Regions from separate parts of the Homo sapiens genome. Here region 2 is linked to region 1. Evidence: fine-mapped expression QTL. Tissue or cell type: adrenal gland. Region 1 holds a variant in brackets; the other region holds the start of a gene. All regions are shown on one strand. Distances are from middle to middle.

Evidence for each region. PIP is the estimated chance that this variant, and not a neighbour inherited with it, causes the effect.
Region 2: it holds the start of GLIS3, and the variant in region 1 is fine-mapped to the expression of GLIS3 in adrenal gland (GTEx, PIP above 0.99).

Annotation. Positions count from the first base shown.
Region 1 is chr9:4,332,523-4,337,903 of GRCh38, reverse strand. It overlaps a transcript of GLIS3 not described here. Among named protein-coding and RNA genes, the nearest start is that of GLIS3, 35 kb to the right of the region's middle. The variant C/G (reference allele first, on the strand shown) is at 3,113.
Region 2 is chr9:4,297,847-4,303,227 of GRCh38, reverse strand. It overlaps GLIS3 (GLIS family zinc finger 3), which reads left to right and starts at 3,160. Exons shown (of 11, transcript NM_001042413.2): 1 at 3,160-3,807. GLIS3-AS2 (GLIS3 antisense RNA 2) reads right to left here and starts at 3,927. Exons shown (of 4, transcript NR_186824.1): 1 at 3,805-3,927.

The DNA of each region.
Region 1 (5,381 bases):
TCTTTGAACCCCAGTTTCTTCATCTTTCAAATGGGGGTAATAGTTGCCTCATAGAGTTTTGTGAGGATTAAATGATACAACATATCTGAAAGATGGATAGTGGAGCCTGGTACTGAGTAAACAAAACTGGTTGCTACCACCTCTACTATTATGCTACTATTGTGATCATTATTATGAACATTAATCAGCTTTTGTCTGGCCTTGTGATATGGTAGAATGAGTCAGATATTGGCCCAAAGGGATCCTCCATGTTCTTTTACTTCAGTGATGCTTGAGGCCCTTGTCCAACTCAGCATGTCAGAAAAAATGACCGGAAGGAGCCTGAAGCTTTTTGTTTGTTAGATATATTTTTTTGATTATAAAGGAAATATACATCATTGTAGAGTACATAGAAATGTTCAGAATCATTGCAAAATATTGCCTTCATTCGTTTAAATCAAAAGTATGAAAATACTGTCCGTACGATTTTGTATCTTTATTTTCAAATGAACATTTCCTATGTCATTAATTTTTTGACCATATCACTTTAATAGCTGCATACTATCTAATCATATGGCTGTATTTAATTAACTATTTTCTGATTGTTAGACATTTATGTTATTTCCAGCTTTGTTACAATAATTAACACTTTGGTGAAGGTCTTTGTAGATAAAGTATTTTTCTGAGCTTCTGATTATTTCCTCAGGACTGTGTCCCAGAATGAGAGTTTTGGGGTTAAATGATTTGCACTTTTAATGATTCTATGTGTTGCCAAATTACTTTCGGGAAAAGTTGTACCAATTTGTTTGTGCACTAGAAGCCAATGACACTACCAACTCTGAGTATTTTCTTTTCCTAATTTGATAGGTTAAAAGTAGTATCTCATTTTAGTGCATTTAAAAACATTTACTAGTAATATTAGATTTTTAAATATTTATTAGTCATTTATATTCTGTCCTCTGGAAATTGTCCATTTACTTGATCTATTTTTCTCTTGGAATTTAGTGAGTTAGTGTCTTCCTTATCAGAATATATGAGTATTCATGTAGAATTGACAGATAACTTTGTAGACCTCTTTTCATAGATCTTTTTAGCAGATCTGTAGTGTAATTAGTATGAACATCTCTCTACTATCATAAAAACTTGCCAACTAAAGGAATATACAAATTGTATAGGACTTGGGACATGAGCTCTGGAGCAGTGAACATCGCACGTTTCCCATAAGTGATAGTTTTGAGGAATGGCAAGGTTTGGAGTTAGGTGGATCTGGGTCTAAACCCTAGTTCTGTCGCTTACTGGTTTTGCAGTCTTGGTTTTGTTGTTTTATCTTCCTGAGTCTTACTTTCCTTTTCCATAAAACGGAAACTATATATTCAGTTTCAGGGCTCATGTGAGGATGCCAAGAGAAAGGGTGATATCAACACCCCGACACATGTATCAGTGCCCTCAGGGTCTGGCACCAGAAACTGTAGCAATGATCCTAAGGGATCCAGGTCCCTGACCCAGAACTGCCACCCAGAGTATTGGTGACCTGGCCTGGCCTGGTGGCTTTGGCCCTGTGGAGCAACTTTAATGCTAGTTACAGCAGCACCAGGGGCTTAGTGGATAGATAGCTTAGCCATAGAGATCTCTGAAAGTATTCAGAGCTAAAGAAGAGGAAACCCATATATCACATGTGGCCATGGAGAGGACTGATTTTGAATCCACATGAGATGCTTTTTGGAGACTCCCAAGATTAGGTCAGGGAGAAGAGTTGGCAGTGGGCTAGAGCCAGAGAACTATTGCTTTCTACTGCTATTGTGACCCTACTTTAATATCATGCCATGTGGCTTATGGGTAACAAACAGATTGGGAAATGGAGGCCCACAGAGGTGTAATGACTTACTCAAGATCTCACAGCACATCATCTCCAAACTCAGGTTTTCTAACTGCTTGCTCCCTGCCCTTTCTTCTTCATCACCTGTCACCAAGTAAATTTACCGAAGTCCGCAAATTTTTACCTTAGGTTGTCATAGCTCTGTATTAACTAACTGAATTTCTTGGAACTGGATACAAACACCAAGGCTGGAATGAGGGAAGAATCACCTTATCCTGTTAAATCTGGTTCAATGGGGGAAGGACCCTGGGGCAATTCAGAGTAGGGCAAGGGACCCAGGGGATGCCAAGTGTGTTCTGAGGCTTCTTGAAAGGGATGGATGCCTCTAAGAGAGGTCTAAATAGATCCTGATGTTTCAGGTTTAAACTAAAACCCTAAGCCGTGTTGAAAGTGCCCTTGTTTAACCCCGGGCTACTTAGGGTACTACAGGTGAGATGCCAGGTGTAAGCTAGGTTAACGCCATCCCCAGGGCTGGTGAGGGAGATAGACACCAGAACCACTGAATTCTGCCTGTTTTTCACACTTGAAGGCTTTGCACAGGAAAGCACGTGGAGCAGAAGTGATAATTCAGATGATTAGAGCAGAAGCCCTTTATGGAGTAGCATTACCAGATCTTTTTATTTGCTATATCTGGCAAGTTTACGAGCAACTGAGGATTTACTTTAACTGAACCATTTGGTTTAGCTGTCTACAATTAATTGATCAATTTCACAGGTTAATTGGCTTAGGGCTTCATTTCACTTTGTGGTATAGACTTTGATCGTCACTGGAGTTATTTCTTATGCTTCTAATTTGTTTCAATTATGGCACTAAGATGCTCAGTAAAAATGAGTGGAAATGGGGCCAGGTACGGTGGCTCATGCCTGTAATCCCAGCACTTTGGGATGCCAAGGCGGGTGGATCACGAGGTCAGGAGATCAAGACCATCCTGGCTAACATGGTGAAACCTCGTCTCCACTAAAAACACAAAAAATTAGCCAGGTATAGTGGCGGGCGCCTGTAGTCCCAGCTACTCGGGAGGCTGAGGCAGGAGAATGGCATGAACCCGGGAGGTGGAGCTTGCGGTGAGCCGAGATCACACCACTGCACTCCAGCCTGGGTGACAGAGCAAGACTCCGTTTCAAAAAAAAAAAAAAAAAAAAAAGGTGGAAATGATTTCTCTTCTGAGAGCTGCTCTTATTGTAGTTGTGGGTTGAAGAGAGCAGGCATGACTGCCCATGGCTGGGCATGCTTTTAAAGGTCAGAGTACAAAATGGC[C/G]TTGGACAAGCCCCAGGTTCGCTGTAAGTGGCCTTCTGTAGCACCTTTGTGTGTGAGAATGAATGCTGTGACTCATAAGGGCAGTAGTGTGGATTGAGGGAGTATAAGGAGAAGACAGGCAAAGCAGCATGGGGACAGTGGCTGAACAGGCCCAGTGCTCACTAGGCCAGGTTGGGCTGTTTGGCGTTCACCTAGGTAACCTGTTGCCAGGAGGACAACAATAACTTCCCCATGACAACGCTGGAGCAAGAGCCCTGGCACTGCAAACAGAGCCAGAAAAGTCTGCCCTAGCTTGGACTTGCTGATTAATGAACATGCATTTGCACTACAATTGTTTCAGGAAGGGTGGAGGGGACAGAGGGCACTGACCAGCTTCCTTGCCTCTCCAGCCACCAGCTCCTTGACAGCCAACCTTTTCTGTCTACCCACATACTCTGTAGCTGCCACGTTTTAATTGTTGCTTGTTTTGAGAGGTTCTGTGATCTCTCTGTAATTTGTAGAAGGACTGAATGTTATATCCAGAAAGCTCCTTGGGAAACAGATTTAGAACCTGCCTGGAATTTACACTATCAGATGGTCTTTCACTGTCCCCTTTACTCAGTTTCTTTACCTGTAGTAGAATCAATTCCTATTACCTAAATTTGGGTGAATTTTTATGAGATCTCACTGCTCAGTCAGAACTTGCTGTAACTGTTTGTCTTGATACTCAAATTCAAGCCCTCTGAATTATGAGACTAGAGTATTGTCTGCCTCATGAAGAGGTCACTTTTGTTTCTAAGCACTTAAGCTCCTAACAGGAACCCTAGTCCTTTCCTCTCCTGCAGAGGTCATCAGAGCAGACAAGGTGGCACCATTCCAGGTAGGATTTAAGGAATCCAAGAAATTCCCAATGCAAAGTGGTTTTCCCTGGCGTTGCCTGAAATCGCACCTTTTTGTAAAGTGTTGTTTGGAGCTTTATGATAATATAATTTCTCTTGGGAGGATATTTCCAATCAGGTGTAACAGCTGGAAGTGAGGGGAATCAAAACAGATGAAGTTGCGGGGGGTGGGGGGGGGCATCACATTGCTTCACAATTACGTCTAGAGCCACCCTTCACAAAAATCCCATTGGAAGCTAATAGCATTATTTGACAAAAGGGTCTCATAGCCAAGTATGTTAGGGAAACATTGGGTTAAAACAAATTGAATAGGTCACTTTTCTGAACTATTGTTTCATGTATCAAATTTGGGAAACTAGCCCAGAGCAATGTTGAAAGGTCATTGAGCAAGATCTTGTTCTGTCACTCTTAACCACTCAGAAGACTAGAAATCTCTCCTTCTGTTTTAAGATTAGATTATTTGCTTGTTCTTAAGCAAATTAAAGTCAATTTTTAAAAAAGACTTAGTTTCTTTCTTTCTTTCCCTCTCTCCCTTCCTTTCTTCCCTTTTTCCTTCCTTCCTTCCCTTTTTTCTTTCCTTTCCTTCCCTTCCCCTTGCTTTCCTCTTCCTTTTTCCCTTCCCCTGCCCCTACCATTCCCCTTCCCCTTCCCATTTTTCTTTCCTTTCCTTCCCCTCCACTTTTCCTTCCCTTCCCTTTTCATTCTTGTCTCACTGTGTTGCCCAGGCTGGACTCAAACTCCTGGTCTCAAGCAATCCTCCTGCTTCAGCCTTCTGAGTAGCTAGGACTATAAGAGTGCAGCACCTGGCTAAGGTTTAGCTTCTTAATTTGTGAAACTGGAGTGATAATACCTGTCTCATAAGGTTGTTCTGAAGATTGAAGGAGATGACTTAGATAAAGCAGCTGTCAGAGTAAGCACTCAATGCTATAAAAATTAGGGAGCTGAAAACGTTAACATTGAATCAAGATTAATGTCAGTCCTGTTAGTCACAATAATAAAGACTGTAAACAAAGAACAATAATACCACCCATCCCAGAAATATTGATACTATCATGTATAAGGTTCAGAATATGTAGTATCTAGTACCCAGTAGACGTTTTGACATATTTACTGAATAGATGTGTAGAGGAACACCTATGTACATTTGTATCAAATTTAATCTGTATCAATAGAGAGCACATGAGGCTGACTCCCGCCTATTAGCTACAATAGCTCAAAGATTAGAGAACTTTCTATGTCATCTAATAGTCCAGAGGTAGGTTGGTAGTTTAGAGTGAGTATACTGTTGTCTGCCCTAAGAAGGCATCCAGAGCCCCAGGTGGGCTGGTCTGCTCTGCTGTCTTCAATGTGGAGCTTCCATCTGGGTGCAAGGCTACTACAGCTGTCACTGT
Region 2 (5,381 bases), 35 kb after region 1:
GCTCAACTTATCTGTATTTTGGGGTTCAAATTTGTTTCTTTTCACGGACACTTTGTGGGAGGAGGAATCTGATCATAGTTCTTTGCAAGTTTGTAAGTGGTTTACTGTCAGAGCACTCAGGGTGACTCAAATAGCAGTTCTGAAGTTTTGCTGTCAGGATGTTCCTTCGGGAGAGTTTCATTGCTGTGAGACAGTGGATGTTCCTATTTTGTACTCTAGCTTTGAGTGAGCTGCTTGCTATGCAGGACTTATGCCTTCTGTGCCCCTTTTGATGCTGATTCCTATACTTGAAATGGTCTCCTTTGCTTATCACTTCTCTACTCATTCTTTGAAGTCCAGCTCAAACAGCCAAGCTACTCCATGTCACATTGCAGGAAATTATTCCTGCCTCCTCCACACTCCCTACAAACTTCATTGTGCTCATCTAACACTGACCACAAGATGCTTTGCACTTTATACACCTGCAATATGTTTTATACACATTCAAAGAGCATGCACAATTATTCTGTAGTACAGTAATGTTGATTGAACTTGGGGCTTCTAAACTGGCATACTTGGCTCTGTCTCTGACTCTCTTTAACTGTTTACTGAGCTTCAACTTCTTTGCTTCTAAGTAGGAGATTATTCATAGCCACATCATACATTTGATTTGAGAATTAGATGAGGTAATATATGCAAAGAGTCCCCATTTCTTGAGGGTTTGCTACAACTAAGACACTGGGCAAAAAGTTTTCTGTAATATCCTCCCATATACAATGCCTACAAGTGTTAATTCCTTTAGTCCCAATACTTGGACAGAGTGTGTACTCACTGAATATTTCTCTGATGAATGAGAACTGGACTGGAGCTGGCAGCAGGGGCCTGTCTGCTGAGTCAGCTGCCCTGAGTCAGCGGTTGAGGCACATACAACACTGGTCTCTAGAGAGGGAAGATACTGACTGGGCTGCAGTTCCCACCTATCTGGCTGAAGGGCTGCCAGAGTATGATTCCTAAGCACGATGGAGAGCTCATGGGTAAGGGAGAGTATCATTTTGGAACTACATGATTTCCTTTCTCACTGTCTCTCATTACCACCCTCCCTCACCCCTGCTGACCAATTCAGCCCAGAAGAGGTACAGATCTCATTCTGAGTCATTCCAGGGTTGTACTGGTACAAGAACAACTGCATTTTTACTATAACCCATGGAATATAAGAACATTGCAGATCTACATTCTTGGCCAGAAAAAAAAAAAAAGAAAAAAATTCAACCAAAGCACTATACCTCTTCAGTGGTAAATATTTTAGGAATGTTAGAGGTTCATGAAAATCACACCTAAATAAAATGACATTCCCACTCTTGGGCTCTTATAAATGAAGAGATTTTGGGGATCTCCAGGTTGATGACTCCTAACTTTCCCAGTGTTTTTTTCCATGAGCTATTGATTAAAGTTGGGTGTAGCACTATATTTTTTTCTCTTCCAGCTAAGCTGTTCCCATCATTTGGGAAGTTTTAGAAGCTTCTGCAAGCCCCTAGGATACCATTCTATGCATCAAAACCATTGTATTTAAAATGATATTTGAGGGACATTGGAAAGGTTTTTTGCAGTCTCCACCCAGGCTTGTCTTGCTCCTGGGAAGCAGTTGTACAGCACAAGAATCTGATGAACAGAAGTTCCCATGATGCATTGAAGGGTTAGTGTTGCCATCTTGCTCTGTTCCTTAAGGCTGGAGTTAATGAGGAAGAGTTTTTATGTGAATGTCAGGCATGTTGCAATAACTAGCCACAATGGAATAGTCATGGCAATTTCCACCACTTGGTTTCTTTGTTTTTGTGATGTTGCTGCATGCTTCATTTTATGAGTATTTTCTTTTCTTACGTGTGGTTGAGCCCATCTATTGCCATCTTGGGCTTGAATACTTGTATTTAAAAGAGATGAACAGAGAGAAACTGGAAAACTGACAGAATGACATATCCTGACCTCTTACTATTTTTCATCCCCTACTTCTGCTGACAAATATTCTGATGAGTTTGTGTCCCAAGGTGAAGGAAAAGAAAAGAAAAAGTACTGTGGAAACCAGGCTTCTTTTGGTTATGTTAATATCATGGATACAGACCAAGCCTAGTAGTATTCCCACTGAAATTAGATAAATGAAAACTGCCAATAGTCTTTTAGTTTTGGCTTTCTGGGGTAAGTCATTTGTGTCCTTGAGGACTTCTGTCTTGATCAAAGCATCTACTACCTGATTGCTAATTTATATTGGAGTGGTAACAGTAGAATAGAATATAAGGACTTGTGAAATTCTAAGTGTCTGGTGGCATCCTCACTCATTTCATTCATGATGGTGAATAATACTGTCAACTGCAGAAAGGCCTACCTGGAGGATATTGTGTGCATTACATACCTAGATTCCCAAGATGGAAGTCCTTGCATCTGTGGCAATACATGTGATGAACTACTAGGAGCAGACTTTCTTGTAACAACCTTTTGAGGGCTCTGGTCAACACAAGCAGAAGCGGTGGCGAGTCAGAGCTTAGGTGGGGTATGAGGCTGAGGATGTTGAATTCATAAGGATAAAGTGCCACTTTATAGACGTAACATACGCAGGGAATATACCTCCATTCTTAACAGCCTGTGTTCAGAATTTTATACCCTTCTAACACTTCCATCACCTTCCTCTCTTCCCTGCCTATACTTGGAAAGGATGCCAAAGCCTTCCTTAGTGCTTCACCTATCCAGTTTCGAAGCTGTCATGTGCATCCGATCCGATATTTCAAAGCAACCCTTTTGCCATTTTTCACTGTGTTATTCTCTCCGTATTACTACCGGATTTTTTTGGTTGTTTGTTTATTTTTTTATGACCTGACATCAAATCCTGTCTAAACACTAACACTTTTTCATGTTAAAATAAGTCAGTTTAACAAATAAGGCCAGGAAGAAGGCGAAGTGTCTCCCTGCTGTTACCCTGTTCTGGAGTTCCTCGACTTCTGGCGCACGGGGAGTGTGTGTGTGTGTGTGTGTGTGTGTGTGTGTGTGTGTGAATGCGTCAAGAGGGAGACACAAGCTCGGCCTTCGAATTGGCCAGCCTAGTGACCCGCGAGCCCGCCCCCACTCTTCCCCCTCCCCCTCCGGCGCTCACACTCAGGAAGCAGCTGGCTACAGGCCGGCCCTCGCGGCCGCACACACATCCACACTCCTCGCCCGGCTGCCTTCCTCCCTCCCTCTTCCCCCTTCCCCTCTCCCTGCAGCCGCGTCCACACTGCGCCGCCCGGGCAGCCCAGAGCGCGGCGCGCACGGGCACCGGCGGCGAGTGCCGCGGCCACTGCCCCTCCCGGGACCCCCTGTACGCCGTCCGCGCCGTCCAGGGTCACACCGGCGACGGAACCCGCCGGCAGCAATTAGCCAGCATCCCGGGGTCGGCCCCCAGAAGCATTCCCCGGCCCAGGACGAGGATGAACAGGACAGGCGAGGCACAAAGTCGCAACTGAACTTTTTAGAAACATTATTTGTGTGTGTATGTGTGTAGCAGGGGAGAATGAGCTGATGCCGAGGGTCCAGCCACCCCGCCTCTGCCTCCTCCTCCCCCTGCCGCCGCTGCCCTCGCAGACGCGCGCGCACACACGGCACTTGGGCCGGGTTTCCGCGCTCCGTCCCCCCGTTTGGATGGGGGTTTTCATTTCCGAAGGAGGCACAGCCCGCGGAGCGCTCTGAAGGGCTGGAGCCCCAAGTTACTCCTCGCCAGCGCCGGCCGCCCGCTGTCACTCGCGCTGGCCGGCCGGGGGAAGGGACCCGCACGCCGGGCTTTGTTGTGGAAATCCCGGTTACCTGGTAAGTGGATGCCATAGGAACTTTGCTCGCAGGCGAGAGACGAGGAGAAACCGGGCGCTTGAGAGTGTGGGGGAGTTAAAGCTCAGAGACGCAAACTAGGGATTACAAATAGTTTTCTACGCTGAGCCGGTGGCGTTCGCGCGGGTTTAAGGATACGCGCACCTCAACTCCCGGCGTCACAGGTCACTGAGAGACCTGCGCTGACTGAGACTGATAGCAACAATTAGGGTTCAAACCATGTTTCTGTCAGTGGCCTAAGAGCGCCCAGTGTAGAAGACAGATAACGGGGCTTTAAAGTTGCGCTAATTCGGAACAGTTTTTGTGTTTTCATTTCAAGTAGAGCGGGCAGAGGGGTACACAATCAGGGCACGTTACAGGACGCACGGGCATGGGGCGCACCACTCTGGAGTCCCCACTGAAGGGAAACTTTGGCGAAGTGGGAACTGATGGGGTGACGTGAGGTCTCTCGCGCACACGCGGGGCTGTAGTTGTCTTTTCAAGTTCCACGTGTTTGTGGAGTTTCACGAAGGCTGTTTTCCACGCCTGTGTCTCATCCAAGCCGGTGTCCCCATGATTGCGGGAGGTGGTCGGGCTGAGGGTACCTACACTCCTCGCGGGTACCGGCCCGGCGATCCGCAGCCGCCAGGTCTGGAACTATAACCTCCCACGCCGCCAGGACGCAGACACAGCCAGACACGAACCCTCCCCGCCGGGTTCGTCACCTCGCGTTTACATTTTTTATGGGGCCCGACAAAATGTCAGCACTGTTTGGAAAATGTCTCAGTCTCGGAGACGTTGTCCTGCGCGCGGCTCCAGTCCCTATAAATGACCCTGTGTGTATTTTGAAGTCGGCCCGGGTCGCTCTCTGGAAAGCGTGAGTGAGCCGCCGGCTCTCTCCTAGACACACACCTTGCCCCGAGCGACAGTTCCAAGTTACTCACTGGAGCTGACAAGTCACCTCGGGGACCGGGAAGTCACTCAAGTGTCTGGAAATCTTGGCCCTGGCTGATTTGTCATCCTATGGATGATTCAATTAGGTACCTGGCGGGAGAAACTTTGGGGAAGGGTTTCTGGCTCCGCGTTCGCGCCCTCCGACTTGCTGGAGGTGTTTGGGAGGCGAGAAGCGAAAGGAAACCACAGGGTGAGGACACTGGCTCGGCGGGGACCGGGGGGCCGGCGTGGGGGGACTGCGAGCCCGGCCGTGGCGCCCCCGGGCTACAGGCTCCGGCCAGGCCGGGCAGCGCGCGCAGGTCCCCGGCGCCCGGGCTTCCCAGCCGCAGCACCCTTTCGGCCCCCGACTCACTCAGGAGCGAGTTGCACAACAGGAAGCCGGCACTAGTTTGTTTTGTTGCGCTGCGTTCGCTCCCTCGCTCGCTCGCGCACGGGGCCGAGGGTTAGGGGCGGAGGCGGCGGGGGAGTGACGGGGTCGCAGCCGCGCGTACCCCGCCGGGCGCTGTCGCCTCCGCCTCCGGACCCGCCCCTAGCTCCGCGCCGAGGAATCTCCGACCCCGGCAGCGAAGCCAGTCCTATAGGGAACCGATAAGGGCCGCCCTCCTCCTGCCTTGTCCTACGCG